Homo sapiens: one gene and its partner. The protein of the gene in region 2 purifies or fractionates together with the protein of the main gene of each other region. This does not show direct contact. Each region holds a gene or a part of one and is shown on either strand. Other genes may lie near its edges.

Region 1 (3,026 bases), on a different chromosome or scaffold from region 2:
GATTTTTTATTTTTTTCTGAGACAGGTTCTTGCTGTCACCCAGGCTGGAGAGCAGTGATGCAATCTCAGCTCACTGCAGCCTCGACCTCCTGGCTCAAGTGATGCTCCCACCTCAGCCTCCCGGGTAGCTGGGACTACAAGTGCCTGCCACCACGCCCAGCTAATTTTTCTATTTTTTGTAGAGATGGGGTTTCACACCATGTTGCCCAGGCTGGTCTCAAGCGATCTGCCCACCTCGGCCTCCCAAAGTGCTGGGATTACAGACGTGAGCCATGGTGCCCAGCCAACTTCTCTGATTTGCTATAGCATCTCTCTCACACTCCTCTCCCCTCCTCAACACAGTGATTTACAAGTTTTCTCTAAAACTGTAGTTTCATCTTTCCAAAGAAATCCTGTCTCTCCTCCATGATTATCTGCTGACTGTCACTTCCTATCATGTACAGGGAATGTGCATTCCCATCCTGTAAGAGCATCTGTCCTCCTCTTCCCACCCAACCCCTCCTGGAGGCTTACGGTCATTTTTGTGGACTATCTGGAAGTTCTTCACAGACGCCTGAGTGACCCGGCCACGGAAGTTGAGGACATAGGACTGAGTGTCACTGTTCCAGACGGGGGCCTTGTTGTGCAGCTCAACCAGATTTTCCATAGTTCTGTTCTGCCACCTTGAGAGCAAACTGTCATGGTTCTGTCCAAAGGGAAAATCATTACTTTGTACTGAGAACTCCAACTCTACGAGGTAGAAGGTAGAGTAGGAGAATACTTTCTCCATTTCAGAAAGGGTAAACCAGAAGCGAAGAATGAAAGCCAACAATGAAGACAGGTTTTTTTTAAAATTATTCTACATCATCCAGCATTTCTCTTTGTAGAAAAAATGGTTTCAAGGCAATGACTCTGCAACTGCTCTTATCCTGAGGTTTTGGAGGGGCAGCTTTCCTAAAGAAGTGTATGGAGCTATCTCCAGTGTGGGGCTCTGGAAGCTCAATCTTTTTTTTTTTTTTTGTATTAATCTCTGTGTATTGTACTACTGTCTTTTAGAGTCTTTCACTGATTTAAATACATTCTTACTCACGTTTTGTGGCTGATAGGGGATCTGCTTATGATTCAGTGTCATTCCAGGAATGATCACAGACATTTTCCTAGGACCTTTAAATCCAAGTACGTTTGTTTCCTGGAAGATAGGAAAACAAAGCAGAACTTGGAAACAGGAAAAAAATAGAGACCACATTCTTTTATAACATGAGACTTTCTTGGGAATGTAAGATGCTGACAATATCAGCTGTATCAGCCGGGGCAGTGGATCACGCCTATAATCCCAGCACTTTGGGAGGCCGAGGTGGGCAGATAACCTGAGGTCAGGAGTTTGAGACCAGCCTGGCCAACATGGTGAAACCCTGTCTCTACTAAAAATACAAAAATTAGCCAGGCGTGGTGGCAGGCGCCTGTAATCCCAGCTACTCGGGAGGCTGAGGCAGGAGAATTGCTTGAACCCAGGAGGCAGAGGCTGCAGTGAGCCGAGATCACGCCGTTGCACTCCAGCCTGGGCGACAAGAGTGAGACTCTGCCTCAGAAAAAAAAAAAAAAAAAAAAAAAAAAAAAAATCAGGTGTACCAAAAATAATTTTATTACTTTGCTGTAAACAGAATCAAAAACAGGAAAGTAATATTATATCTCTTTATACTTCTCTTTTTTTTTTTGAGACAGAGTCACGCTCTGTCGCCAGGCTGGAGTGCAGTGGCACAATCTCAGCTCACTGCAACCTCCAATCTCCACCTCCTGGGTTCAAGCGATTCCTGTGCCTCAGCCTGGGACTACAGGCGCATGCCACCACGCCTGGCTAATTATTTTTTGTATTTTTAGTAGAGACGGGGTTTCACCAAGTTGGCTAGGATGGTCTCGATCTCCTGACCTCGTGATCTGCCTGCCTCAGCCTCCCAAAGTGCTGGGATTACAGGCGTGAGCCACTGCACCTGGCCTATACCTTCTTTAAACACCTACATTTAAAACAGAATCTCTTGGCTTGAGAGTTTACTCTTAACTATTTTTTTTTTGGGACCAGAGTTTCACTCTTGTTGCCCAGGCTGGAGTATAATGGCACAATCTCAGCTCACCACAACCTCCGCCTCCCGGGTTCAAGCAATTTTCCTGCCTCAGCCTGAGTAGCTGGGATTATAGGCATGCGCCACCACACCCGGCTAATTTTGTATTTTTTTTTTTTTTTTAGTCGAGACGGGGTTTCTCCATGTTGGTCTCGAATTCCCGACCTCAGGTGATCCGCCCATCTTGGCCTCCCAAGGTGCTGTGACTACAGGAGTGAGCCACCACGCCCGGCCTCTTACTCTTGAGTCTTAAATGTGATTTGAGATAACTGTGAACAAACTGTTCAACTTTGTCAGCACCAACACATATTTATTTCCCAGTGAGGGCATAGCACTATATTACATACAGTGAAAATTAGTTGTGGTTAAATAAGGCCTGCACTAGGTATTAAAAATGCCTGTCAAGCCAAGCAGATTATTCTTATTTTATTTTGAGATGGCGTCTTGCTCTGTCACCCAGGCTGGAGTGCAGTGGCACAATCTTGGCTCATTGCAACCTCTGCCTCCTGGGTTCAAGCGATTCTCCTGCCTCAGCCTCCCGAGTAGCTGGGATTACAGGTGCCTGCCACCACGCCTGGCTAATTTTTTTTGTATTTTTAGTAGAGACGGGTTTTTGCCATGTTGGCCAGGCTGGTCTCCACCTCCTGACTTCAGGTGATCCACCGGCCTCGGCCTCCCAAAGTGCTGGGATTACAGGCGTGAGCCACCACGCCTGGCCGATTATTATTATTTTTTAAACAGGGTCTCATGCTGTCGCCCAGGCTAGAGTGCATGGTGTGATCACGGCTCACTGCAGCCTCGACCCTCCTAAGACTCAGGTGATCCTCTTGCCTCAGTGCCCCCAGTAGCTGGGACTCCAGCGACTGCCACCATGCCCGGCTAATTTTTGTATTTTTAGTAGAGATGGGGTTTCACCATGTTGCCTAGGCT
Region 2 (3,652 bases):
CTTACTCCTCTGGCTGTATTCCGGGCCACTGCAGCACCCCTGGCCCTGCTCAAACCATTCCTGCCTTTGCAGGAGAAGTTGGGGGAGCTCGAGCTGGGTGCGTTTTGCATGTAAGAAAAGTTGCTGAGGCATGTCCCGGAGGCCCCCGACTGGAACACCTTGTTCCTGCATCTGTTTGGCGAGTCTGACGGTTGTTTCTGCCCCGCCCACCGGAGGCCAGGCTCCCAGGCTTCCTCCCTCTGCTCTCCTCTTCCTGTGCCTTCGTCCTTTCCTCCTTTGTCCTCAGCTTTCCCGCCTCCTCCTTTCAGAGCCCACCTTCGGCATTTTCCTGCCCTACAGCCCTGTGAGTGTGCACCGGGGCCAGCACCCCGTCCAGGGCCCCATGGGTGAGTGGGGTGGCTGCTGCTTTGCTGAGATACCAGTGGCAAGCCTTAGTCCTGTGATTCGGATGCACTAACCAAGTGGTACCAAGAAGCAGACTTGACGGCATTATGAAACTGTAGAGCGTGCGTGTGCATTTTTGTAATACATACCTAATTTTTAAAAATTCAGCGGCACACAAGCCCAGCCAGCAGCCATGTTGGTTGTCGGTTATGAGCTGGACTCCACTATCCTCTGTCTCCATGTCCTCGTGCAGAGGGGGCCCCTGTGCACCGGGTTCTTCTCCCTTGTAGGACGGCGGGACCCGGAGGCTGGAGAAGGCCAAGGTCTCGCTAAACGACTGCCTGGCGTGCAGCGGCTGCATCACCTCCGCAGAGACCGTGCTTATCACCCAGCAGAGCCACGAGGAGCTGAAGAAGGTTCTAGATGCTAACAAGGTAAGCAGTGGTCGGCCTGGTGACTCTGCTTTAACCTGAAATCCATCCCAGCAGCCGACAACGCGTTTTGCCAAGGGCAGCTCGTGTGGTGCCGACGTCCGTCGTGCGGGTGGCGCCTGCCTTTTTGAGGCTTGGAATCTTGGTGATTTGTCAGTGGGCTCCAGTGGTGAACGTGTCAGGCCCCAAACTTCAGGTTCTAAATATACATCAAAATGACACCCCTACTGGGCGCGGGGGCTCACGCCTGTCATACCAGCACTTTGGGAGGCTGAGCCGGGTGGATCACCTGAGGTCAGGAGTTCGAGACCACCGTGGCCAACATGGTGAAACCCCGTCTCTACTAAAAATACAAGAATTAGCCAGGTGTGGTGGCACATGCCTGTAATCCAAGCTACTAGAGAGGCTGAGGCAGGAGAATCGCTTGAACCCAGGAGACAGAGGTTGCAGTGAGCCGAGATTGCGCCATTACACACCAGCCTGGTGATAGAGTGAGACTCCATCAAAAAAAAACGATACCCTTGGCCAGGCACGGTGGTTCACGCCTGTAATCCCATCTACCCAGGAGGCTGAACCTGGGAGGCGGAGGTTGCATGCAGTGAGCTCCGATCGCACCACTGCACTCCAGCCTGGGCAACAGAGTGAGACTCTGTGTTAAAAAAAAAAAAAAGACTCTTGATGGAGCTGGCCTGCCCTCTCCACAGCTGACAGCATCTCACCGTGCGGCTCTGGCCACCAGGAATCAGCATAAGGCCAGCAGAGTAAGCAGCGTCTTCCCCTTGCTTTGCAGATGGCGGCACCCAGTCAGCAGAGGCTGGTTGTAGTTTCGGTCTCACCACAGTCTAGAGCATCGCTGGCTGCACGGTTTCAGCTGAATCCTACAGATACTGCCAGGAAATTAACCTCATTCTTTAAAAAAATAGGTAGGCTTTGAACCTGGGGTAACACTGCCGCTCCAAATCAAGGGGGCGTCTGAGTAAGCCCAGGCCCCTCGCGCCTCTGAGTCACTGACACGCTACCCAGCCCTGAACTTCAGCGCTACAGAAACTTTATTCCCTCTGTGACCTCAGCCTGAAGTTTTGATTTGACATTTGAGAGCAGGGCCTTCTCACAGAACACGTCTGCATTCTGACTGTGCACTTTCTCTAAGCTGGGGCTGACCAACTCCTTGTACTTTTTAGCTGATAATATTAAGGCACTCTCTCCGGGGCTCTGTTGGGTTCAGCCAAGGTCAGCTTCTGCTGACTTTGGTTATGTGCCTGGAGCTGGGCTTGGGGAGGATCTGGGTGTCTTGAGAGCCCCCAGCTAACTAGGCTCCAGTGCCTGGTGTCTCACTGGGAATGAAGGGGCTGGACCTCATGGTTACTGTGTGCCTTTCACAGGTAACCACCATGTCCAGTCCCTTCATTCCCAGTGAGGCAGGCCTGTGCGCCTTGTAACCAGCAGACTGCCTGTCATCCAGCTGTGTCCCAGGTCCCTCACACTGGAAACCTGGTGACACTGGCAGGTGCCCCATGGCTCCTGTCTGACCCATATCCAGTTGGTGCCTGAGCAGTGCTCTGGCACTGGGAGCCTGACCTGGTGTCCCAGGGAAAACCTGGCCTGGGGCAGCCCATGGTTCTCCAGATGGAAGGTGTGGATTTCGTCCCCACCAGAATAGGAAGCAAGTTCAAAGATTTTTACTTAGAGATGATGATGACGGGCAAGTGGGGCACAGCGAGTCCTCCGACCACGGGTTACGCGAGGGAGGAATGACAAGTCAGGCAGAGAGAGAGGGACCCACACGCGGGTGCCTCTGCTGGGTCCAGGGCACGATCAGGCAGGTTTACTGAGCAGTTCTAATGGCTGGGCTTGGAGCTGGCTGGCGTGTTCCAGGAGTCCTGCTGTGTGTGAGGGGTGGCCACTATGGTAGGTCTGCACAGTCAGGGTCCGAGGGGCCAGTCCAGCAGGCTGCGTCCAGCTGTGCCCTAGGGAGGGTCACCGGGAGCAGCGCACGTGGCAATTCCCTGGACCAGCCACGCTGAAGAGCTGGGAGGGTGGAGGACTGAGCTGCTGGGTGGCTGCCTCTGGGGTGGGAAACCAAGGCCTGGGTTCACAGGGGATGCCGAGGCAACGTGGCTTTAGGAGGTCCCCACAGTGGGGCTGGGGCTTTGGCGCAACGTGGCTTTAGGAGGTCCCCACGGTGGGGCCGGGGCTTTGGCACGGCAAGCAGGTGCGACACACGTGCCCTGGCAGCACCATGGTGGTCCACACGCCGGCGTGTGCTCGTGTGGGCGTCCCGCATGGGGTTAACCAGGCACCCACCTTCACCTTCCAGGGGTGCACTTCGTCTTCGACACCGCCTTCTCAAGGCACTTCAGCCTCCTGGAGAGCCAGCGAGAGTTTGTGCGGCGATTCCGAGGACAGGCCGACTGCAGACAGGCGCTGCCCCTGCTGGCCTCTGCCTGCCCAGGTGTGCTCATGGTGCGGGTGGTGGGAGAGTCAAGTTCAAGTGCAGTTGAAACGTGAGGTGATATGGACACAAATGACAAGGCGGGGGCATGGGGGGTGGAGACGCAAGCAGGTTTTGCGGGACGGGTTGGAAATGTTGGCACAAATGGCCTTTTCTGGAGAAGAGGCTGCCCTCCCGTGGGAGCCACGCGCAGTCACCTCAGGTCCCTAGGCGGTGTCGCCTGCACGCCGAGCTCCGCGTGGTGGTGGGGAGAACAGGAATGAGCACTCTTTAATGTCATCATGATCTCCTGTATGAGCGGGCCCGCCCCCAGAATGTCGTGCTGCTGCCTGTGGGTGCGGGGGCCGCCGTGCGCCCCCGCCAGCCCCGTGTGCCCCCTGTCACC

What was found. Proteins that work in one complex are often made in the same cells at the same time.
Region 1: the proteins of CIAO3 (region 2) and TULP3 purify together in Homo sapiens (co-immunoprecipitation; one large-scale study listed by IntAct). This does not show direct contact.

What each region holds. Positions count from the first base shown.
Region 1 is NC_000012.12:2,935,773-2,938,798, reverse strand, and holds part of TULP3 (tubby-related protein 3), read right to left. Parts: intron 1,169-3,026; coding exon 1,070-1,168; intron 686-1,069; coding exon 514-685; intron 1-513. UniProt on the Homo sapiens protein: Negative regulator of the Shh signaling transduction pathway: recruited to primary cilia via association with the IFT complex A (IFT-A) and is required for recruitment of G protein-coupled receptor GPR161 to cilia, a promoter of PKA-dependent basal repression machinery in Shh signaling.
Region 2 is NC_000016.10:734,352-738,003, reverse strand, and holds part of CIAO3 (cytosolic iron-sulfur assembly component 3), read left to right. Parts: intron 1-674; coding exon 675-818; intron 819-1,605; coding exon 1,606-1,738; intron 1,739-3,132; coding exon 3,133-3,267; intron 3,268-3,652.